7 linked regions of the Homo sapiens genome follow. The protein of the gene in region 5 purifies or fractionates together with the protein of the main gene of each other region. This does not show direct contact. Each region holds a gene or a part of one and is shown on either strand. Other genes may lie near its edges.

The links.
Region 1: the proteins of MEIS2 (region 5) and EPS8 purify together in Homo sapiens (affinity purification with mass spectrometry; one large-scale study listed by BioGRID and IntAct). This does not show direct contact.
Region 2: the proteins of MEIS2 (region 5) and TOMM34 purify together in Homo sapiens (affinity purification with mass spectrometry; one large-scale study listed by BioGRID and IntAct). This does not show direct contact.
Region 3: the proteins of MEIS2 (region 5) and PPFIBP1 purify together in Homo sapiens (affinity purification with mass spectrometry; one large-scale study listed by BioGRID and IntAct). This does not show direct contact.
Region 4: the proteins of MEIS2 (region 5) and LRPAP1 purify together in Homo sapiens (affinity purification with mass spectrometry; one large-scale study listed by BioGRID and IntAct). This does not show direct contact.
Region 6: the proteins of MEIS2 (region 5) and CMTR1 purify together in Homo sapiens (affinity purification with mass spectrometry; one large-scale study listed by BioGRID and IntAct). This does not show direct contact.
Region 7: the proteins of MEIS2 (region 5) and GNB4 purify together in Homo sapiens (affinity purification with mass spectrometry, with the first as the bait; one large-scale study listed by BioGRID). This does not show direct contact.

The regions. Positions count from the first base shown.
Region 1 is NC_000012.12:15,667,389-15,670,888, forward strand, and holds part of EPS8 (epidermal growth factor receptor kinase substrate 8), read right to left. Parts: coding exon 3,468-3,500; intron 2,438-3,467; coding exon 2,276-2,437; exon of another isoform or gene 2,272-2,275; intron 2,149-2,271; coding exon 1,999-2,148; intron 1-1,998. UniProt on the Homo sapiens protein: Signaling adapter that controls various cellular protrusions by regulating actin cytoskeleton dynamics and architecture. Depending on its association with other signal transducers, can regulate different processes.
Region 2 is NC_000020.11:44,950,398-44,953,897, forward strand, and holds part of TOMM34 (mitochondrial import receptor subunit TOM34), read right to left. Parts: intron 1,606-3,500; coding exon 1,436-1,605; intron 1-1,435. UniProt on the Homo sapiens protein: Plays a role in the import of cytosolically synthesized preproteins into mitochondria. Binds the mature portion of precursor proteins. Interacts with cellular components, and possesses weak ATPase activity.
Region 3 is NC_000012.12:27,681,206-27,684,705, reverse strand, and holds part of PPFIBP1 (liprin-beta-1), read right to left. Parts: intron 3,161-3,500; coding exon 3,010-3,160; intron 2,320-3,009; coding exon 2,208-2,319; intron 2,092-2,207; coding exon 2,003-2,091; intron 1-2,002. UniProt on the Homo sapiens protein: May regulate the disassembly of focal adhesions. Did not bind receptor-like tyrosine phosphatases type 2A.
Region 4 is NC_000004.12:3,503,112-3,505,767, reverse strand, and holds the end of LRPAP1 (alpha-2-macroglobulin receptor-associated protein precursor), read left to right. Parts: 3' UTR 1-2,156; downstream 2,157-2,656. UniProt on the Homo sapiens protein: Molecular chaperone for LDL receptor-related proteins that may regulate their ligand binding activity along the secretory pathway.
Region 5 is NC_000015.10:36,894,550-36,898,049, forward strand, and holds part of MEIS2 (homeobox protein Meis2), read right to left. Parts: intron 2,138-3,500; coding exon 2,079-2,137; intron 713-2,078; coding exon 602-712; intron 264-601; coding exon of another isoform or gene 205-263; exon of another isoform or gene 168-204; intron 1-167. UniProt on the Homo sapiens protein: Involved in transcriptional regulation. Binds to HOX or PBX proteins to form dimers, or to a DNA-bound dimer of PBX and HOX proteins and thought to have a role in stabilization of the homeoprotein-DNA complex.
Region 6 is NC_000006.12:37,436,221-37,439,720, reverse strand, and holds part of CMTR1 (cap-specific mRNA (nucleoside-2'-O-)-methyltransferase 1), read right to left. Parts: intron 1-3,500. UniProt on the Homo sapiens protein: S-adenosyl-L-methionine-dependent methyltransferase that mediates mRNA cap1 2'-O-ribose methylation to the 5'-cap structure of mRNAs.
Region 7 is NC_000003.12:179,441,471-179,444,970, forward strand, and holds part of GNB4 (guanine nucleotide-binding protein subunit beta-4), read right to left. Parts: intron 1-3,500. UniProt on the Homo sapiens protein: Guanine nucleotide-binding proteins (G proteins) are involved as a modulator or transducer in various transmembrane signaling systems.

The sequences.
Region 1 (3,500 bases), on a different chromosome or scaffold from region 5:
TTGCTAGTTAAATGAGAGGCCAATGCATCCCAGTCCAGTGTGACTTCCTAAGAGCATTTAGTTTCAATAAGACATTACAAATATCGTGTCAAAGGCTTTCTGTTACATAGGATACTAAAACTGAAGATGAAAAGATATTTAATTAAAAATAATTATTTAAAAAAACCCAAAATGAAAACTGAAGATGCCTAGGAATCTTCAACTTCTTATACTGGGGCTATTATATTTCTAAGAAAAATTTTACTGCAAAGGTGGGCAGGAGCATTGCATGAAGTCCTATAATAAAGAAACTTTAAAAATCAAAAGCAATATTGCACAATGAGCCATATAAAAGAAACTGCGTTTTTCATTGCCTCTATATTTTTAACCAGCCAAGCGAAAAATGTCTCATATGCAGAGTATGAAACTAATGAGTAAATGCATACAGTGCTTCGTGGTATGTGAGCTTTTGGGGTTAGGACAAAACTATATTCAGTAAATACATTTTGAATCCATTATCATTACCATTCCATATCAAGTAAAGCAAGCCATTTGTTCCCAAACCTAAAATCCAGAAACTTTTCACAGCATAGTAACTTTTAGCTCCCGGGGGGGGCTTTTTAGAACACAGATACAAACATCAAATTTGAAATGTTTTTCAACTTAGGCCTCTGGTTTATAAAAATGTTTGAATTAAATTTCACTATATTTTTAAAGCAAAATATTCCCTTTAATATTTATTGACTGAATATATCTAACCTTACAAAAATTATAATATACTATGACTTTCAAAAGGCACTATACAAAAATCTGATGAATATCACTTACACAAATTACCTAAATGCCAGTTCTTTTAGAAGAAGGTTTTTAGAAAGTCATCCATGACGTAAATTGAAATTAGAAGAAAATTATAAAATACAGTTTACAGTCAATCTTACTTTATCTATCATCTTTAAATGTCAAAAAACACAGAAAAGATCAAGTAACTGTGCTAATCTCCTAGAGTTTCTTTATAAAATAAAATTACATGGATATTTTATAATATATCATCAAAATGTTAAATCACTGCTTTGGCAAAGTACCAATTAACACAAAATGATTTCTCTTTTAAAGAAAACAACTGAGGAAATAAACACATTCAAGGTTGAAGATAACTTCTAAGGTCCAATAAAGCATCACAAATTATAATCATTTGAAATTACACTGTACTTTGAAATAGAAACTTTCAGGATATAGCCTGTTATTACTGGCTCAACTATTTTCACATATCATCTGGGAATTACAAATCCTGAGCAATGAATCAAGTCACATAATTAAATGGTGAACTTTAAATCAATATCGTGGGAAATGTCTAAGTACTTCATTGCAGTAATCCATGCTATGTCATTAGTGCAGAATAAATTCAAATTACATGATTATTTACTGTCCACAAAGCAAGATTTCTGAACAATCAATTTTTAATTATAAGTTTAAGGCATTTGATGTGAATTTAATATATTATCTACACTTTAAAAAAATAAACAGAATGCATCTTATTTTTAAGAGACACAATCTCAATCTGTTGCCCAGGCTGGAGTGCAGAGGGGTGATTATAGCTCACTGTAATCTCCAACTCCTGGCTCAAGAGATCTTCCTCCCTTAGCCAACTGAGTAGCTGAGACTACAAGCGTGTACAACCACATCTAGCTAATTTTTAAAACCTTTTTAGTAGAGACTGGGTCTTGCCATGTTGTCCAGGCTGGGCCCAAACCCCTGGCCTCAAGCCATCTTACAGCCTTGGCCTCCCAAAGCACTGGGATTACAAGTGTGAACTACTGATTTGATTAACATCACCCTAATTTCTTTATTTACTTGCCATGGAAATCCTAGAGAAGATACTAAGGTATTTGTTTTCCTTACGAGATGCTCAGAAACTAAAAATCTAGTAACTAATATGCAGATATATTATCAAAATAGGTAATTCAAAAGCTCCCAGACAATCTGCTTAAAGAAGAAACAAAAATTTCACCATTCTTTTACCTTAACCTCATCACACTGGAAGAGATGAAGATCTGGCTTGTTCTGGGTTGGCTCTTTGCACACCAGTGCAAGAACTGAATCATAGCTGCATGAATGCATCACAGCTTGGCAGTGCTGGATTGTGTTTAAAGGAAAATTCTCCAGTTCATTCTATAAATAAAGTGAACATTTTATTTTGTCAAACTTCCATCCATTTTCAAACAATCTGAAATGATTGTAAACATTAATATTTGTGGAGTTTCTTGAAAATAAAATAGTATAAATTTTACACACTTGCCTTTGATTCTAAATCAATCAGGCTCACAGCTCTGTCATCCACTTGAAGAATCATATCTTGAGTCCACACTTTGCCCTTGGCATCAAGCAATTTCAATTTCCTTATTCCATCATCAACAGTGATCATAGCATCTTTCCGATCCAGGACAAAGGTAGTCAAGTGCTTACAATTGGCAAAAAGGAAAAAGATTTATAACACATACAAACACATACAACCTCTTAGTATACATTTTCCAAAAGAAAATCAAATAACCTGAGGTCAGCTAGCAGAGAACGACAAACACAAAGTACTCTTAAAACTTCATGACTATTTTAATGAGAGAATAAAGCCAACCAAGGTTTTTTTTGAATAGAAGAAATGGTGTTTTGACTCATAAGATACCTAAATCTGTTTCATACGGAGCCATGTTGAACTACATAAACATGACATTAAAACAAATTCTTAACAGCTTAAATAATATTCTCTTAAAATAAACTTTCCCCTATTTGACACTCTATTATGGTTATTTAAATGCTGAACATAGCAGCATTTAAACAGCAGGCTATCTGTATGGGAGCTTCAAAACTATGGACACTGATTGTAGCAACAGCACAATTCTAGTCTATAGGAACTGTCAAACTATTCAATCCACTAAAACCACTTACTGAAACAAAACTGTTTAAATTTGATTAAGCATGCTTGACATAGGTAGAAAACTGAAAATAAGAGCAATTTAAAAATTACTTCCCTGCTTAAATATTTTCTATTATAAGCACAGGTCAACCAGATAAATTCCAATCAAGAGCAAATATCGTAAAAGAGGGCAAAAACTAAAAAAGAACCATTATTTAACTAGAACTGGCAATAACTTTAGTTAAACTAAAAACTAAATTGCTCACTGAAACTAGCAAAGGCTTAATTTCAAGAAGATTCTATAGTACAAAGTAAAAGCCATTATTCTATTATAAGTGAAATAAGACTGGCAAGGATAAATGGATAGTAGTTATGATTTTAAATCATTCTTTATGAAAATAGACCACAGACTAACAAGATACTTTATATGTAATATCTGTTTTAAAAAATCTAAACAAAAAGGTCAATGCAACTTAAAATACATCATAAGAATGAAATAAAACAGAATTCTGATTTAACTTCCAATTTTTATGTTCCTCAAGGGTCACTCTAAATACTAGCAAACACCAAAGCATCTTACTTCAACACGGTATTGAGATATATCTGACACACT
Region 2 (3,500 bases), on a different chromosome or scaffold from region 5:
AAGCACATGTTCCTCCTCCTTGTGTTTTAAGACACTGTTTACATGTCTCAGTCCCTCAACTGAGGGAGAGTTCCCTGAGGGCCAAGACTGTCCTCTGTGTCACACTGCTTAGCATACACATGGCTTGGAACACATGGCTCAGTGACCCTGAAAGAATGAAATCAATGGTAGGTGCACTGATTTAAAGAATGAAATCAATGGTAGGTGCACTGATTGAAAGAATGAAATCAATGGCACTGATGCCATCAGGTTCATTAGCACCGCACATTTTCATCCTAGAGAAGAGTGGGGAACACTTACCAGGCTCCCACAAACCAGAGTGAATGCTACCCATGACCAGAGAGGCATTCTCCTGTAGAAGGTGAGTAACTCTTGTCCTCCCCTAACACCTATAGGTCACTTACACATGGCAGGGCTCCATCTCTGATCCCTTCTGCACCTCTAGCCTGAATCCCTAGCTTGCTGGGCTGGGACCATTCCCCTGGAGCATTAAAAGAGCTTCCTAGTGCCTGACAAATGGCCTCTTCATTTCATACAGTTGAGGTGAGGAATCTCCTGTTTTTGGCTGCTTGGATCTCCTTTCTCTTCTTCATGCTTCTCCAGGGATTCACACAGTGTACATGCTCCTGGGAAGCATCACCCTCTAGTTCTGGAGGTGGGGCAGGTGCCTCAGGGTGACCTAATCACAAAATCTCATCCGCCGGTTATGGTGTGTACTTCAGGGAATGGCCTGTGACCATGAAGACCAGAATAGATTGAGAAAATGATTGAGAAAATATGTGAGCTAGAGTTTTTTGGGGGAAAAAAATCCTATCTTTTCCTAGTGAGCTATCAGAGAAAGACTTTCTTTCTCTGGGTCATGAGGCATGGGGTATGGATGTGAGGCCGGGAACTGCTATAGCTATTTTGCTACTAGGAGGGAAGCTTGCCAAAGACAAAGCTGACGCACAACAGAAAATAAAGCTGTGATAAGTACAGAAAAATGGAGTTAGTCTGTTAATATACTGAGCTGCTGGAGCAAACCTTGCCTGAATTCTCTCGGATTTTTCAGTTTTATGAGCCAATAAATTCCCTATACTATGTTTACCATGTTGAGCTTTCTGTTTTTGCAACCAAAAACATCCTAAGTACTACATCCCAAGTGCTACCAGAGGAAAGAGAAGGGAACTCACACTGCATGCCTATGTGCCAGGCTGGGAGTTTTACATGTCTTATGTCATTCAGTCCTCATGGTTGTGAGGAAGACTTTATCATCACCCTCACTATACAGCTGAGAAAACAGTCTCTAAGAGGTGAAGACTTGTATTTTGTTTTATACTTTGTTCCTAAGATTATTTTTATAACTCAGCTAAACAATGCCAATTTTTGCAGGACTACTCTAAAGAAAATGGATAGTGGGAGATTGCAAGACTCTGGGCAGGGAGTCACAGCTCACCTCTGTTCTTTGTAGCTGTGGTTTCTTTGGATTTGCTTTTAGCCATCTCTTTGTGGTTCTCCGAAGGCAAGGAATTCCACCTCTTCTGAGCTGAAACAGGCACCAAGGGGATTGAGGGCAGCTTCAGGCGCCACTCAGGCCCAAGCGAGTCCATGAGAGCTCTGGTCATTCTGGAAAAGAAGGCAGGATTGCAGGGAGGTTTCCAGCTGGGTCAAGAAGATATTTCTCCTTTCACACACCCATGGGAGGTAGGCCTTTTCAGAAGAGCCAGAGCTGCCACCCTCCCCCTGGTCGGAACCACCTCTTTAGCTCCTCCAACACGTGCAATACAGGAACCCATAAACACCATCTCAGATCAGTCCCCATGACATTCCTTGAGCTTGGTCAAACTATGTTACCTTTAAAGTGGTGATCTGTTGCTTGTTAAGGATACTTAAACCATGATCCAAAAAGACTATAGTTTCTCCAAGAAAGAATCATACATTTTGTTTCATATTTTATCAATGAATCAAGTACACAACCATGCAAGCACCTGACATTTGTTTAATGCTCAGGCTTTTTAAAAAATGCAAAGCTTATGTCATTCTCAAATCTTACAACTCCTCAGGGGTTCCCAATTCCCTAGGCTAATGTGGCATGTGAGATCTGGTCCCCACCCCTTCCTGTCCCCCTTCACTGTGAGCCACATTCTCTTCTGATCCTTCTGTTCAAGACTTTGCACATGCTTTTTCCTCTACCCAGAACAACCATTTTCATTTTGGAAAAAGATTGCCACCTTCCAGGCCCGGCTAACTCCAACTTATTCTTTAGATTTCAGCTTAAAATGCCACCCAGAGACCAAGTTCATTCTGTCAACTGATCTCCAGCACCTGGTATGTCACCTAGCAACCACCAAGGCCCAATCAGTTATGTGTTGAATGAGTGAATAATGCTAACTGTATACTTTTTCTGCTCCTACAACCATGTTTCCTATATTACAAGAATAAAAACCACAGACTGTATCACTACAAATTCCAAGATGTCTCTGGCTAGGCTGTTTTCCTGGCGGCCAAGCTATTTCAAACCTCTGCTCTCCTCAAACCTGTTCCCTGGCCCTTCCCCTTTTTTAGAGCAAACTTCCTCATACCCCAAATACAAACCTACCTGCCTGGGTGCCCAATCCTTCCTATTTCTCTCCTGTCACAACAGAAGAGACAATGGGACCAATCCACCCACCTAAGCTCTGGATCCCATCTCCTCTTGCCTCTTTCAGGGACCACACCCAGGCAGCACCTCCCTCTCCCACATCTTCATCCTTCCTCTCTACTAACTCCAACCGTCAGCATTTAAGTCCCTTTAACTCTTTCCTCACCTAATAAAACCATACTGGACACCCCTTGCCATCACAGGTATACTCCCCAGCTTCTCTTCAAGCCTGACTTTCTGAAAGCATTGCCCTCTGGCTCCTGATCCCACTGACCAGCTTCCATCAGAGCCACCGGTGACTTCATTGCCAAACCTTTAATGTAAGCTCCTTGGAACACCTGACACTAATGATGTCTCCATCTTTCTTGAAATACTCCTTCCCTTGGGACATCAATGCCCTGTTTCCTCCCACCTCTCTAGCTGCTGTTCCTCTGTAAGTCCCTCAAATGCTGGAGTTTCTCAAAGCTCCATCCTCTTCACACTAGCTGTGATGTTCTTTTTCTTTCTCACAGCCCTAATCCACCTCTGCGCTGATGACCCTCAAATCCTTATGTCTGGCCTGTATTTTCTTCCTTTGTTCCATGTAAATACCCAACCGTCCTACTTAGATCTCTAGTCTTATGTCCCACAGTCACCTCCGACTGAATGTCAATAATCTGAGTGTCTTCTTCTATTCCTCCCTTCTCGATACCCCGCAACCACTAAAGCTTGTTGATATACTTCCTACATGTCCCCTGACTGGTCCCATTGTTTTCTCTCCACCCTCTCCCCTGGATTGCTGCATGACTCCTTTCTATTCTGTTGCCCTTCATATCATCCCTCAACATGGCAGCAAAGAGCTTTTCTCTAAAATACAAATCTGCTCATGTTGCTCCACTGC
Region 3 (3,500 bases), on a different chromosome or scaffold from region 5:
GTATTAATATGAGCAAAATGCTTAAAAGGATGTTTGACACATAGCAAATGTGCAACATACTACACATATTAGTATTATTTCACGCAGGTTTATGTGATGTGCTCATCAAGGTAAGGGGCTTGGGTTCAATGACAGAGAAGAAAAATCCATGAACTGAACTCCAAATTTTTTTGACATTGAGAAATGCCTACTTAAGTTGGCTGTTTAAAACTTGCTACTTACTTGAAAAAGATTATACTTAGGGTAGTTAGGTCTATAGCCTACTTCACAAAAAGCTGTTTAAATAAAAGAATTTTAGGCCGGGCACAGTGGCTCACGCCTGTAATCCCAGCACTTTGGGAGGCCGAGGCAGGTGGATCTCCTGAGGTCAGAAGTTCCAGACCAGCCTGGCCAACATGGCGAAACTCCATCTCCACCAAAAACACAAAAATTAGCCAGGAGCAGTGGTGTGCACCTGTAATCCCAGCTACTCGGGTGGCTGAGGCAGGAGAATCACTTGAACCTGGGAGGTGGAGGTTGCCATGAGCCAAGATTGTGCCACTGCGCTCCAGCCTGGGCAGCAGAGTGAGACTCTGTCTCCAAAATAAATAAATAAATAAAAGAATTTTAAGTAGAACAAGGCCAGGCTCGGTGGCTCACGCCTGTAATCCCAGCACTTTGGGAGGCCAAGGTGGGTGGATAACGAGGTCAGGAGATCGAGACCATCCTGGCTAACATGGTGAAACCCCGTCTCTATTAAAAATACAAAAAATTAGCCAGGCATGGTGGCAGGTGCCTGTAGTCCCAGCTACTTGGGAGGCTGAGGCAGGAGAATGGCATGAACCCAGGAGAGGGAGGTTGCAGTGAGCCGAGATCGCACCACTGCACTCCAGCCTGGGCGACAGAGCGAGACTCCGTCTCAAAATAAAATAAAATAAAATAAAAATAAAAATAAAAATAAATAAATAAAGAGAATTTTAAGTAGAACATTAATAGTGGTATGGAACCTAAAACAAAGTTCTCCTGGAATCCATCTTTCTCACTGCTGTAAAGCAGGGAATAGTCCTACACATTGGCTGGAGGGCTAGAAATGTACAATAATGAAGGAACCAGAGTAGAAGTCTAGCCTTCCTCCCTCCTCCTTTAACCCCAGTAACTCCTGCTGTAGCAGAACTAGGCTGAAGTGAGACGGGTGATAGGGTTTCAGGTAACAGTTGTCCAGAGTGGAAAGGAGAAGACAAGTCCTTGAAGATGTCAGGTCAAAAGGGTGGCCTCTTCCAAATGGTCATTGCACATAGAAACCCATAACTTAGAGATAGCTTGGGCTTAAAAATTCTACATTCTATTTAAAAAATATCTTTAGGCTGGGCGTGTTGACTCATGCCTATAATTCCAGCACTTTGGGAGGCCGAGGCAGGCAGGTCGCTTGAGGTCAGGAGTTTGAGACCAGCTGGCCAACATGGCGAAACTCCGTCTCTACTAAAAATACAAAAAAATTAGCTGGGTATGGTGGCGTGAGCCTGTAATCCCAGCTACTCGGGAGGCTGAGGCAGGAGAATGGCTTGAACCTGGGAGGTAGAGGTTACAGTGAGCTGAGATCACGTCATTGCACTCCAGCCTGGGTGACAGAGCGAGACTCCATCTCAAAAGAAATAATACAAAAAAAATCTTTATGAGATATAATTTGCATACCATAAAATGTACCCATTCAAAGTGTACACTTCAGTGTTTACTTTGTTGAATGTATTACATATAAAATCAACCTTCTGGAGAGCTTAGTTTAAATTAGGCTTCACTTAGCTTACATTGGGGTTTCAAATTATCCCAAGCCTGTTCAATCACAATCACCAAATGCTACAACTTCAGCCTCATGGGAAATATGCCTGCCACTCTCCTCAAGTTCAAGCAACAGCTTCAAACTCTGGTGGAATCACTGAAAACACTGTGTTTGGCTTACTCAATTCCTGTGTTTTTCAGAGAAAAAAAGTTTTCCTCCCCCAAACCCCAGGAGTGAGTCACTTACAACAGTCATGTAATGTAGCATTCGACCATCAACCCGTCCTTCATCAAACTGGGTCTTATATTGAGGGAGGCCAATGTCATCCAACCATCCTAAAAGAGAGAGGCCAGTGTTGCTACCATGCCACAAAACATCTGTTCTTGTGATTAAAAAGAAAAAGCAACTATGTATATAATTATTTCATTTTGTTAGAATAAAAACTTCTTACTAGTGACCCAGTTGAAATCCAGCTTCCCATGATTGGTTTCTTCTTCAGATCCCAGGGCTTGGAGTGCTAGCTGGAGTTTCTTTCGATGAAGTGAATGCTTGATTCCAAGTTCCTGAAACAATAAACATTGACTTTATAATTCTATCTGTATAGGCTGGGTGCCACTGGCAAAGGATGCAAATTTCTCCAAAATGAAGCTAGCATTAAAGACCCAATTCAATACTGAATTACAATCCCAACTTGGGCTAGTAAAGTGTTGTTGAACAAAAGGTCCCTGAAAAGCCAAGACCACCACAATTATCTTAGGGGTGTGTTAGGCATTCCCTAGTGACTCATTTTCTTTGTAAGCTAGGAACTGTAGCATGCATAAAAAGAATTTGACTCTTATTTTGTACAAAATATTAAATAATTTGGAAGAAATGTTAAATAATTAGACACAAATTGTAGGGTGCTTTTTTTTTTTCTTTTGCAAAGTGAAGTTAATTGCATATCTTACACTGAGAAAAACAGGCCAATGATAAAGCCAAACAATGATTTCGAGAAATATGAACTGAATTATGCTTATGTAATTCTTTTTCATTAAAATGCCCAATGGCTTAAGTGTTCCATAAGGAATCATCAAGACCAGGTCCTCCCAAGACCACCAGAAAAAAGAAGCATGAAGCAATTGAAAACCCAAACTTTTGTTTACAGAGTTTTTACTGGCTTCACTCATGGCCCTTTCTGGACTATAAAACAACCCTACATTCATACTGTTTTCTTCTCAGTATCCATTGTGTGAACAAAACAGAGAAGCAGTCACCTTCTCTAGATCTTGTTGAGAAGCCTGCAAAAGCGTTTGGCCAGATGCAATCCAGTGCTTGCCAGAATTCAGGTACGAGCCCAAGCCCTGTTCCATCAGCCAATTGCAAACCTGCTCCTTGGTCCACTTGGCAAATGGCATATCCAAGTCACTACAGGAAAATGAGTAATTGCATGAAAAATAATCCAAAGCCAATCCTGTGGCTTATCATTAGTTTTAAACAACTATACATTCAATAGACATGGAAATTCCCTGGTGATACACATTTGACCATGAAAAGCTTAATTTTTAGTATACATTGGAGGAACAACTGGTTGAAAGTTATCTTCTAAGACCACTGTCTTCATTTCAAATGAAACCACAAAAGATTTAACGTGATAGAGCAAGAACAAGTGCTACAGAAAAAGACCAAATTGGACAAACACAAGTCACTGTATCAGTTTTAACCAATGTTGTTTGAAGATTGGATTCCCAAACAGGAAACTCAGTTG
Region 4 (2,656 bases), on a different chromosome or scaffold from region 5:
GGTGGTGGTATAGACGGTCTTGGGGTAGCTGGTATAGACGGTCTTGGCGTAGCTGGTATAGACGGTCTTGGGGTAGCTGGTATAGACGGTCTTGGGGTAGCTGGTATAGACGGTCTTGGGGTAGCTGGTATAGACGGGCTTGGGGTAGCTGGTAGTGGTGCTCAGGAGGCGTGTGGGCTGCTGGTGCAGCTGGAAGCGCACCTCAGCCATGGTGTTGTGCCAGGTGTGGTTGGGGATGCAGGGGACGTTCCGGCCGCAGGAGGCCCCTGCCAGGCACAGGCAGCTGCGCGGTGTGGAAGAAGTGCCGCTCGGAGTCATGCTTGACAAGGAAGTACACCTTACTCCTCTCAGTGGTGAGGGGTCAAACCACTCCTTCCCAGCGATGGGGCCAGCAGCCTGGCGAGGGCTAGGCACCGGGGAGGGATGCTGGATTTGGAGCTGGGGGGAAGGGGTCACCCTGCATTGGGCTCCAGTGCTCCGGGTGCCATGCCTGCTCCCCCACCACTGCCACCGCAGCCGCTGCGGGACACCAGGGGCTGGGGCTGAAGAGCAGCCTCGAGCTGGGCTGTCCAGGACACGGTCGCCCTTCTTCCTCGTGTCCGTGAGCTCAGGCACAACCTGCAGCTTAGCCAGCCCACTATGGCTGCGTGCGTGGCAGGACCCGGGCCACCATGGCTGCGTGCATGGTAGGGCACATGATTATTTTAGCCTCTGGTATCACTAACCATCCCTAAAGTCTCCAATGGTCTGTTCCTGTCTTTCCCTCTGGTTCACTTGTGGGGTCATGTTGTCTTCTGTTCTTTGTTATTTATTTTTTTCTTGAGACGGAGTCTTGCTCTGTCGCCCAGGCTGGAGTGCGTTGGTGCGATCTCGGCTCACTGCAACCTCTGCCTCCCAGGTTCATGCGATTCCCCTGCCTCAGCCTCCCAAGTAGCTGGGATTATGGGCACCTGCCACCATACCCAGCTAATTTTTCTGTGTGTGTGTGTGTTTTGTTTTTTGGTTTTTTTTTTTTTTTTTTTGAGATGGAATCTCAATTGCTCAGGCTGCAGTGCAATGGCGCAATCTTGGCTCACTGCAACCTCCACCTCCTGGGTTCAAGAAATTCTCCTGCCTCAGCCTCGCAAGTAGCTGGGATTACAGGCCCCTACCACCACAGTGGGCTAATGTTTGTATTTTTAGTAGAGACAGGGTTTCACCATGTTGGCCAGGCTGGTCTCGAACTCCTGACCTCAGGCAATCCGCCCACCTCGGCCTCCCAAAGTGCTGGGATTGTAGGCATGAGCCACCATGCCTGGCCTAATTTTTCTGTTTTTAGTAGAGACAGGACTTCACCATGTTGGCCAGGCTGGTCTCAAATTCCTGACCTCAAGTGATGTGCCCACCTCGGCTGCCCAAAGTGCTGGGATTACAGGCATGAGCTTCTGTGCCCGGCCTGAACTGTTAAGTGTTTGTGAAGAATTATTTGGGGGCCTATTTGAGAGCTGTTATATGGATCATCCTCCTGGAGAGGGTTCTTAAGCCTCTGAGACCGGGTTTGGGGCTGAGGCTTTCTGACCCACACAAGTCATGCTGACCCCTGAAGGGCCGCAGGCCAGATCTTGCCAGGTGAGCACTTTCCCCGCTCACATTCAGGATAGGGCGAGGGGGTTGGTACCGATTCACCCTCAGGGCCTAGATTTGGGGGCTTCAGCTTGCTGCAGATAGGTGCTCCCTTCACTCTCACCTGAGGCTGGGCTGGAGCCTGGTGTCTGCCCCACCCTGCTGGTCAGCCCCCTAGGACCTGAGCCCCGTAAGCCTGGACTGGCCACGCCCTGGGGCAGCAGCACTGGGTGCTTGGCGCTCACGACCTTCCTGGGCCCCTGGGTCCCTCACTTCTCCCTTGTTTCTACCTTCCTGGCTTGTCAGATTCCCACAGCTCTTAAGGAGAAATTCAGTATTTACTGCAGCATGTGTTTTCAGTGTGATGGTTCATCTAGGTACCCTAGCCTGTCATTGCTGGAGTTGGAAATCTCTGTTGTCTGCTGTTGTTTTGTGAAACAAGCGCGTGAGGTTATAAGTTTCCCTCAACGTACCACACTAACCACATTTCCCTAAGTTTTGATGTGTAGTGTTTTCACTGCCATTCAGTTCAAAATATTTTCTCATTTCAAGTATGATGTCTTCTTTGATCCATGTGTATTTTTAAGTTGCTAAGTGTACTTACTTTGGCCGGGCATGGTGGCTTACGCATGTAATCCCAACACTTTAGGAAACTGCGGGGGGGAAGGATCACTTGAACGCAGGAGGCTGAGGCTGCACGTCACAGGGAGAGACGGGCCGCGGTGATGTACGAGCTTCCTGTTGATAGGCAGTTAAGTTGGTTCGGGATAACGTGGCCTGCCTGGCACGGGTATTCCCAGAGTCACAGATGCTCACCCGTGCCAGCGTTGGCTGCTTGGGACATGGGGACGGCGAGGTCCCCACACCCCACATGTGAGCTGCTGGTAGCTGGGCTGAGCCCAGGTCCCATCCGTGTGTGGGGCGTGAGTGTGCGGTGCCATCGGGTCTGCACGGGCCTCGCCTCGTCCCGGACGCTCCAGGCTTCCTGTGGCACGGGTGCCGAGAGGGACCAGCCTGGGCCTGCTGAACCGAGGGGGTGGTCTAGGGCAGAGGC
Region 5 (3,500 bases):
TGTCATCTGTGACTTCAGAGATGGGTGATATATATTTAAAAACAGGTCCTTAGTTTGGAAAGGCATGCAGTTATGGGCAAGGAAAAATAAAATGGGGGCAAATTATAAAAAATAAAATAAAGTCTCTGAAGTGATAGTGAAGACAGATCGCACCCGACTGTACTTACTTCCCCCTTGCTTTGCGATTGCTTTACATGATGAAGGTTACATGTAGTGCCATTGCCCATCCATGCCCATATTCATGCCCATTCCACTCATAGGTCCTAGAAAGGAGATAAAATCCAAGAAGAGGCCGGAAAATCAGCAATAATTGATGGTGAAAAAATAGAAGGAAACTCAGATTCCTTTTCACTTATTGCCTTGGTTTAAAAAGAAAAAAGAAAAAGGATGTGTATGGGGCAGAGTATAATGGTACTGTGGTAAAATCTTTACTTTTTCAAAGAGGAATTTTTTCCCCCACCCAATGTAAAGAAAGCAGGCAGAGCAGGCAGCAGGCAAATGTTAAACCCACCATGACAGTGGGATAGTAGAGTGGATGGAGAGGCTGGTGGAGCAGGTGGCACTTCCCAGGGAAGCCCAGAGGCGGGATGAGCCAACCTACCTGCAGGCCGGATCCCCATGTGTTGCTGACCATCCAACACAAAGCTCCCCATGGGCTGACCCTCTGGACTATATGCTGCTCCTTGGCTCACTGAAGGATCAAGAAGAAAACCTGATTGTGGTCATTCGAGGACACAGAGGAGAAAGAAGAAAAGATATACCAAACAATCAGCAATTGTTCCCGCTGCAGCACTGAAACGTTATAGCAACAATGTGGTTGGCACTCTACAAATGGGGGTGTGGTTTGTCTGAGTGTCTTGATGACTGAGTGAAGGTGTGTGAGTAGCTTTAAAAATGTTCTGGAAGAAAGACTTCACTGGCCAGTTTCCCAGGGGGTTCGTCCTCTGCAGCCCTTGCTTTTTTACTTATCTCTTGATTAGGGGGACGAAGGCTGGAGAAGTTAGGGGTACCCCATATACAAATATTGCAATGTACCATTTGGTTGGGATTCTCTGAGGCTGCCATCTCTGGTGGCTTAATACAAAATGTTCATATTTTACACAAACATTTTAAACCTGAATACAATTTCACAAGGTTAAATAGACTCAATTAAAAGCTTGCCTTTTTATTCACACCAAGGAAATATAAACTTAGTAAATATAATATTTCCATTGTTTTATGTTCTTCTCCCTAGCCTCCAATAGTGGGAACATATTTTGGCGTTATTGGGGAAATTTTGCCAAAGGATGACTAATTTTCACAAATCCTTTAAAGCGAGGCCACAGGTAAAATCTCCATCAAGTTTAACACCGTTGTTAGTGGCAGCAGTCATCACCCCAAGGAAAACTGTTTTTCCCTATAAGCCTTATTGCAGGAGACCACAAACCCTCAGTAAACTGAGGAAATGTCTGTTTCAAAATAAAACGACTTGGAGTATACCAGGAGGGTTCTGATAGTACCATACAAAAACTGTTTTAGAGAAATTGAGAGAATTCTGAGAAAAGCTCACATGTATTTTAGCAGCATGGATGTGAAGCATTTTATACAAAGGTAATATTCTTTAATAAAAAATAATGGTGGCAATGCAGCAAGTCAGGCTTTAATAGGATATTATGAATAGCCAAAGCAAATGAATGGATACAATAAGTTTAACAGCAGATGCTACAGAAAGGAAAGCCTAGCATACACCAAGGAGCTGTGGGTAACAGAAAAATGAGAGTGTGCTAATGATTGGATGCAGACAAGCAAGGGGTAATGCCAGAGCTCACAAACACGCTGCTTGTGGCATTAATACCTGTGCCCAATTACCAATTCAGAAAGAAAATAAAAAGCAGTGTCAGTAGAGTCAGGGTGGGAAATCTCCAATTAGCACCACTTACTGAAGTTGCTTCCTTGAGTGGGATTCTGGGGACATTAAAAAAAAAAATCCAGAATGCCTGGTGGAAGCACTTATTTATCAGATGAGGAAACTACTGGAGTATAACTTGATGAGGATTTGTGCCTGTGGGACATAAATATAGATACTACTTGGAACTTGCCTGCTCGATTTGACTGGTCAATCATGGGCTGTACTATTCTTCTTCTGGCATTAATAAACCTGAAAGAGAACAGAGAAGTCCAGTCATCATACTCCGTTTCTGTACTCTGCGAACACCTTTGCATGAATGCTGAGGAGCACAAAATACAGTCAAATCTCTTCTGAAAATTATCTTTTCAATTTAAAGGTGATTTTCCCTTTCAGCGTTCAAAAATAGTTGACTGGGTAATCTCCGTCGTCACTGCGTAGTCAACTCCAAAACAACTTGCTAGAAGAGCTCAGGGACGGAATAAAGTTCTCCATGAGAAAGCTTCTATTAACTTCAAATTGTGCTTCTGCTTCTTGCACAAGTAGGAATCTGGTTAAAGTTCACAGGCTGGAAGACTTTCCCCCTTTCCCTAGACTCCCCGTGATAGGGAGACCCAGCTTCCCCTTGCAGCTGGTCATAAATGGAGACCAGGCTCTAGCACTCGGCTTTCACAAGGTATTGTTAGGTCAGCAAAGCCATCAATTAGGCTGTCTGAAGTTTTATCACCAACACAGCAGTAATAAGTGCTGGCCAGAAAGACTTCTGCTCTTCGGCAACTCCTGCAGTTTAAGCCTGTAAAGTTAGGGGTCATTCAGAGGTCAGTGCCAGCTGGGGGCAGCCTTTCCAGCCTAAGCTGGGACACCCAGGGCAGAGGATAAGGTAACTGCCAACCATAAACCCAGCCACCTTTCAACCCACTAGAAAGACAGAGCCTCAGGTACACATGTTTGATATTAGAGCTCAAGAAACGTTTGCAAATCAGGTGGTGGCTGAATCGCAGGAATGCAAAGGAGAAGCAGTTATTTCATCTAAGAAGCCTGGATCTAATTTTGTTGGAAATCCAAAAATAAGTGCCTACTTCATGTTACTTTAATGTTTAATAATGCCCATCAAATATTCATGTACAAACAGAGTAAGATGATAAGAAATCTCCTTTATTTCTCCAAATTTAATAAAAACAAAACAATTTTCTACCATTTGTGAGTTACCCTTGTCCCTGTGCACTTAACGACGTGTATTCCCCACACATTTGAGCTCATGCACACGATTCACTGACCACGCATTTCGGAGGAGCAGGGAGCATCCAGCTAGCTTCTCCCTAAAAATATACCCATTGATAACATCTGTCAATATTTCCAGTTTCAGATCTTAAGCACAGGGGGACTTCATGATTAATGAGTCCACCTGGGGCCACAGGCAGGAACTGAAAACTCACTCTTTGAAATTAGCCAGAAAAATTCAGTGTGTGCTGGCAGCTCTGTGTTCCGAGGAAGCTGAAGTCCCTTTGGAGGAGGACAGTCAGGCCCCACTCGGTCGGGCCTCCTGTGAGCACTCTGGTGGGAATACAATTAAGCTGAGGAATAATAGCTGGGAGAAAACCAAAGGAGTCTTTTG
Region 6 (3,500 bases), on a different chromosome or scaffold from region 5:
ATAAATTATGAATTTTAATAAACATCACATCCTGCTTAACGACTGTGGTGAAATAAACTCATTCCTACTTAAAGACTCAATTTCTCCTTCATGCCAGACAAATGGTAACTTGTTAGAGCAATTTAAACAGATACCGATAAAGGAAGCTTTTGATTAAGGTCATGAATCTGGGCTGACAGGAAAGCGATGGTGTTTCAGGGCAAATAGCCTATTTAGGAAAGAATTAAACCTGGTGGAGAGGAAGGCGCCTTTAATGTGATACTGGTGAAGGAGCCTGGCAACTTCCAAAGCAACTGGCTGCAGCAGGGCTAGGAGCCTACACCAGATGCACAGCTAAGGAGAGAAGGAATTTTCTTAGGGTCTAGACCATAGTTTTCCCGTGAAAAACAACCAAAGAGAACAAAATGACCTCATCTGCCTCTCCTTACTTCAAAAAGTTATTTGACAGCAAATTTGTAAGAATGTATTTACACTTGAAAATACCTTCAAACTCCTTTGAAAATACTCAAAAGATCACGATGCAACAGTGGCCATGACAACAACATCCCTTTTCTTCTTTACTCTGGCCAGATGTCAGTCTTTGACCTGGCAATGCAGCTACCATGTGAATAATGTAAAATAAACACACTGATTAAACTAAATAGATCTAATAATGAGTCATTACATTGATTTAGCAGAGGAGGAAAAAATAAGGTCCACACAGACAGAAATAGTAACTACTGTTTTGTTTTTCTAATTGTCCTCCCTAAAGAGCATTTTTCAATCATCTACCTGAACATTATGTTCAGGTAGAAGTGGCTGCAGTAAATGGAAACACCTCTGCTTTAATAGAATGATTTGAATAGGAAAGCTGCATATACATTTCAGGGGATATGTAGACAGCAAACCACCAGGGTATACTGTCCGGGGGACACCTAAGAGAATTAGATACAGAACATAGGTGATATAAATGCTAAGTACTTAATGAAATGATCTTCTGCAGACTGGAGGAGACAGGCAAAATGAAAACTGTGACGCATTTTAAGCTTCTTGGAAAAGATACTATTGTTGCCTTTTATCAGTTCTATTCAGTAACTATTTACTGAGCTTTTGCTCCAGGCTAGGCATGGTGGGAAAGAAGGCACAGGGAGCAGTCTTGCTGATAAAGATACTGCCCTCAGTTTCTGTGTCAATGCAGAGCTGCCCCTTCCTAAAATAAATTAACCTAGGGAAATCTAGAAATGTTGGTTTGCCTCTGCCTCCCATCTCATTTTCTGCAAATGAAAGGACGAAGTGGCCTCTTGCCAGACACATACAAGGAACTGGACACCTCTGGATTTCCATTCTTTTTTTTTTCTTTTTGAGATAGGGTCTTGTTCTGATGCCCAGGCTGGAGTGCAGTGGCATAATCTTGGCTCAGTGCAACCTCTACCTCCTAGGCTCAAGTGATCCTCCCACCTCAGTCTCCCGAGTAGCTGGGTCTACAGGTGCATGCCACCATGCCCAGCTAATATCTGTATTTTTTGCAGAGGTGGGTTTTCACCATGTTCCCCAGGCTGGTCTCAAACTCCTGGGCTCAAGCAATCCGCCCACCTTGACCTCCGAAAGTATTAGAATTACAGGCATAAGCCGCCATGCCCAGCCTGGATTTCCATTCTACACACACAACAGCAATAGTCAATCCTGACTGAGTCATATAGTACCACTTCCAGAGAAGGGGGAAGAGTAATCTCAATTCAGTCACAAAAGCTTGAAATTTAAATCAGAACGGTTTCCTTGAAGGATCCTTACCCTTATACACTTACCTTCTTTTACCTGGGACTTGTCCTTTCCTTACTTCAAAGAGATGTTACTTGAGAGCAAATGTCCCCCAAGATCCACTTAGAACCAGATATCACTTGTTCCCCAGACATACTCTCTCTTTTTCCCTTACAAGCCATCTCTCCCAATACCCCTACCCAAGGAGATTCTATCTTCACCAAGCTGCTCAAATTCCAGGTGAGAGGTAAAATTCCCTTTCCTCAAGAATCTCCAGAACCATCGCGTGCAGTAAGTTTTTGCCTTCTTACTCAGGAACTTCAATTCCTACCTACCCTGGAATCTACTGTGACTTTGAAGCAGAGGTGTCCAATCTTTTGGCGTCCTTGGGCCACACTGGAAGAATTGTCTTGGGCCACACATAAAATACACTAACAACAGCTGATGAGCTTTTTTTTTTTTTTTTTGAGACGGACTCTTGCTCCGTGTAGTGCAGTGGCACAATCTCGGCTCACTGCAAGCTCTGCCTCCCGGGTTCACGCCATTCTCCTGCCTCAGCCTCCCGAGTAGCTGGGAGTACAGGCGCCTGCCACCACGCCCGGCTACTTTTTTCTGTTTTTTAGTAGAGATGGGGTTTCACTGTGTTAGCCAGGATGGTCTCGATCTCCTGACCTCGTGATCCGCCCACCTTAGCCTCCCAAAGTGCCGGGATTACAACTGTGAGCCACCGCGCCTGGCCAGCTGATGAGCTTTAAAAAAAAAAAAAAAATCCCCCAAAAATCTCATAATGTTTTAAGAAAGTTTACAAATTTATGTTGGGTCCCATTCAAAGCAATCCTGGGCCACAGGTTGGACAAGCTTGCTTTAAAGGCGTGAACACCTCCACATACAAAGCTGCAACTGACTCTCTTATCTAGCCTGGACTACAGCGACACCGATGCTCCATTCGCTGTACCACCTGTCAAGCTTCTCTCTGGACCAGCTTCTCAGTAGCAGCTGATGAGTAACTGCCCTTCAATAAGCTTATCACTTGTGAATAAACTGTATTTCCTACTACCTTCAAAGGGTGCTTCACACCCTTTCAGTCACCAATCTGTTATGAAATTTCATTCCAGTTTCCCAGTGATCCAACAGAGGATCCAATATGCAAGCCTGCTGGTGTGCTGGGTTGAATATGGTATCCTCCCCAAAGCCTGTAAATGTGACCTAATTTGGAAATAGGGTCTTTCCAGATTACATCAAATGTAATACTAGATTACAGTGGGCCCTATCCAATGACCGATGTCCTTATAAGAAGAGGGAAATTTGGATACAGACACACACAGAGGAAAGGTAGAGGCAGAGATTGGAGTTATGCTACCACAAGCCAAGGAACACCAAGGAATGCTAGCAGCCAGCAGAAGCTAGAAGTGGTAAGGAAGGTCTTCCCAAGAGCCTTTGAGGGAACATGGCCCCACCAACACTTTGATTTTGGACTACTAGCCTCCAGAGCTGTGAGAGAATAAATGTCTGTTGTTTTGGGTCACCCAGTTTGTAGTAATTTGTTACAGTAGCCCTAAGAAACTAATACAGCTGGCAAGTCAAGGTAAATGCAAATTTACCTTGAGGTATTTGAGGCAAGCTCCCAGACATTTTACCATTCCTCAGAAAGCATCTATGGAAACTGTGAATAACCCTAAAAGACAGGCAAAGCAAAATGCTAGTTTCAACCAGATTAGTGAAATCTTCGACGCTTAATGCAAACAGTGAACGCAGCAATGCTC
Region 7 (3,500 bases), on a different chromosome or scaffold from region 5:
TGCCTGTAATTCTAGCAATTTTGGAGGCCAAGGCAGGTGGACCACCTGAGGTCAGGAGTTCAAGACCAGCCTGGCCAACATGGTGAAACCCTGTGTTTACTAAAAATACAAAAACAAACAAACAAACAAAAATTAGCCAGGCTGGGTGGCCGGCGCCTGTAATCCCAGCTACTTGGGAGACTGAGGCAGGAGAATCGTTTGAACCCGGGAGGCAGAGGTTGCAGTGAGCCAAAATCACACTACTGCACTCCAGACTGGGTGATAGAGTGAGACTCCATCTCAAAAAAAAAAAAAAAAATTGGGACCATCACCCTATATACAGTCAACTCACTGACTGAAACATCATTTTTTTGAGACGGAGTTTCACTCTTGTTGCCCAGGCTGGAGTGCAGTGGCACACGATCTCGGCTCACTGCAAACTCCGCCTCCTGGGTTCAAGCAATTCTCCTGCCTCAGCCTTCCGAGTAGCTGAGATTACAGGTGCCCGCCACCACGCCTGGCTAATTTTTGTATTTTAGTAAAGACAGGGTTTCACCATGTTGGTCAGGCTGATCTCAAACTCCTGACCTCAGGTGATCCACATGTCTCGGCCTCCCAAAGTGCTGGGATTACAGGCGTGAGCCACCAAGCCCGGCCGACTGAAATATCGTTATGGGGCTCATCACTATAATCATATTACAGTGTAAATGCTATGACAGAACTTGTATTTAAAGTATTACGTCATTGAAACCAAATGTTTATGAGAATGTGGCTGAACTCAACATACTAAGGATTTCTCTTAAATTTTACACAATACGTTTTGAAACTATTGTCCATGAATTCATTGAACCCATTTTTAGTATGCTTATATTTTCACCTGTACTACTTCTTAAAAGTAACAAGTTCTGTCAATTTACGTCAGCTCTGTAAAATAGCAGGGCATTTCCTTTTACTTAGTCCTAAAACTACCTTCTCTAAGAGGAGCCTCTTGGTTTTAGTACTCTAAGATTTTGTGAACTAAACATTAGAAACATAAATTATGATTATGTAAATTTAAAATCATACACTTAGCCTGTCTTTTCTTACATGACCCACTCAAGCATTATTATCTCTTGGATTTTTTTTTATACGACCACATGTAGTTATCTCTGTGTTACCAAGCCACAGTCCTATGTCACTTTTTTTTTTAAGAGATGGGGTCTTGTTCTGTCGCCCAGGTTAAAGCACAGTGGCACTGCCATCCTTGCTCACCACTGCAGCCTTGAACCCAGTGGCTCAAACGATCTCCGACCTCAGCCTACCAAGTTGCTGGAACTACAGGTATGCACCACCATGCCAAGCTAATTAAAAAAAAAAAATTTTAGAGGTGGGGTCCTTACTATGTTGCCTAGGCCTGTCTTGACATCCTGAGCTCAGACTGTCTTCCCATCTCAGCCTCCTGAGTAGCTGGGATGAAAGGTGTGATCCACCATACCCGGCAGTTTTGTATCACTTAAAGTCACATAACTTGCTTTTGTTTTACCAGAAACAACCCTTTAAATTTACCAGACTTGGTTATATATTATTTTTGGTTACATACAAAAATTTTAAAAATCAATCCCACCATTAAAGGGTTAGAATATGACAACTGGGGATATCAGAATTTCATCCAACAAATGTTTATGAGTGCCTCACAAGCATTACCATCTAGCTTATTTGCTAACTCCGCTTCATAGGACAAAATGTTAACATGTGCAATTACCATAGTCACGGAAAAGTAGCTACAATTTCTTATGTTCACAGCTTTAATAAAAGTAAAATATCTTATGGCTGGGCACAGTGGCTCATGCCTGTAATCCCAGCACTTTGAGAGGCTGAGGCAGTTGGATCACCTGAGGTCAGGAGTTCGAGACCAGCCTGGCCAACATGGTGAAACCCCATCTCTACTAAAAATACAAAAATTAGCCAGGTGTGGTGGTGCATGCCTGTAATGCCAGCTACTTGCGAGGCTGAGGCATGAGAATCTTTTGAGCCTGGGAGAAAGAGGTTGCAGTGAGCCGAGATCTCACCACTGTACTCCAGCCTGGGTGACTGAGTGAGACGTCTCAAAAAAACAGGTAAAATATCTTAAAGTTACCAATAAGTAGAAATAGAATACAGCATCCAGTGTCTTTCACTGTAGATTTCATTTTTCTTAACAAAGCCATAATGCCTACCTATAAGATAAAATTTTAGAGGTTTTAGTTAACAAGCAAGTGTACTTATGGTGATACTGTTCTGAGATGAGCAGATATCCATCTCTGCTACCTCAGGATGACACTTCATTTACAAAAATACTATACAATTACTGTCTCAGGTTTAGATTAGCAGCTAATTAATAACTGAAGTTATTTGGGATTCTATCCCATCCCCAATTCTCTACCCCACCACTAATGTTCTCGGAATCTATCATTCAAAGGGTCTTATCTCTACCATGCAGTTCGAATAGAATATTCATTTTTAGTTACATTTAGTCCCATTTAGTTTTGTTCTACTGCTGATTTTCCTATTCACGTTTTTATCCTACAACACTCTCTATCACATATACCAAGACTGCTCTTCAATGCCTTAAGGGAACACACAATCCCCCCGATTCTTCAGCATCCTCTCATAATCTGTCTCATCATTTCTAAAACCTTTGCAAAGATTTTTTTGCATTAAAAGGTGAGTCAACACATAAACATGAATGAAATTTACATACTAACCTATCTCTATTTTCTTTATGTCTTACAGCCAGGAGGAGTCTGTGGTTTTTTCATTTTTTTCCCCCCAAAGAGTTTCCCTGGTGATATATTCAATAATTAATGAACCAAATGAAATCTCCTGTTCATAAATTTTAATTCCCATAGTAAGGTTAACACAAACCATGAAAACTAATATCTAAGTTTAAAATTTTTAATTACTAAGTTTTTTGTTTTTTAGACCACACGGCAAGGAGATCACATTTTTCAGGGTGTTTTTTTTTTTTTTTTAACCTCTCAACCGCTTCCCTAGAGCCCTTTTAATACGTAATACAGATAACTAAGATCCCTTGTTGACAAATTTCAATTTCCTCAAGTACTTAACTGCCTACCATGTTCCATTTAAATACACAGTTTCATCGGCACGGTGGCATGCACCTATAGTCCCAGATACTTAAGAGGCTGAGATGTGAGGATTGCTTGAGCCTGGGAAGTCAAGGCTGTAGTAAGCCATGATCGTACCACTGCACTCCAGTCTGTGTGACAGAGAGAGACTCTGTCTCAAAAAGTATATACATGCATACATATATAATTTAATTTGCAGAATTCTAGAATGTCTTAAATTATTTCCTTATAAAAACTAGCCACGGTAAGCCTTTTTAACTATCCTAAACATAATGTATATAATTTACGTCACATGCCAATTAGACATAAAACCTCATTCAGCTTAAGCTGCCTTACTGGGTTTTTAATTTCACTTACCAAGTAGTTAATGACAAATTTTCATATTTTAAACAATCTCTGGGTAAAGGTGTTTAGTTG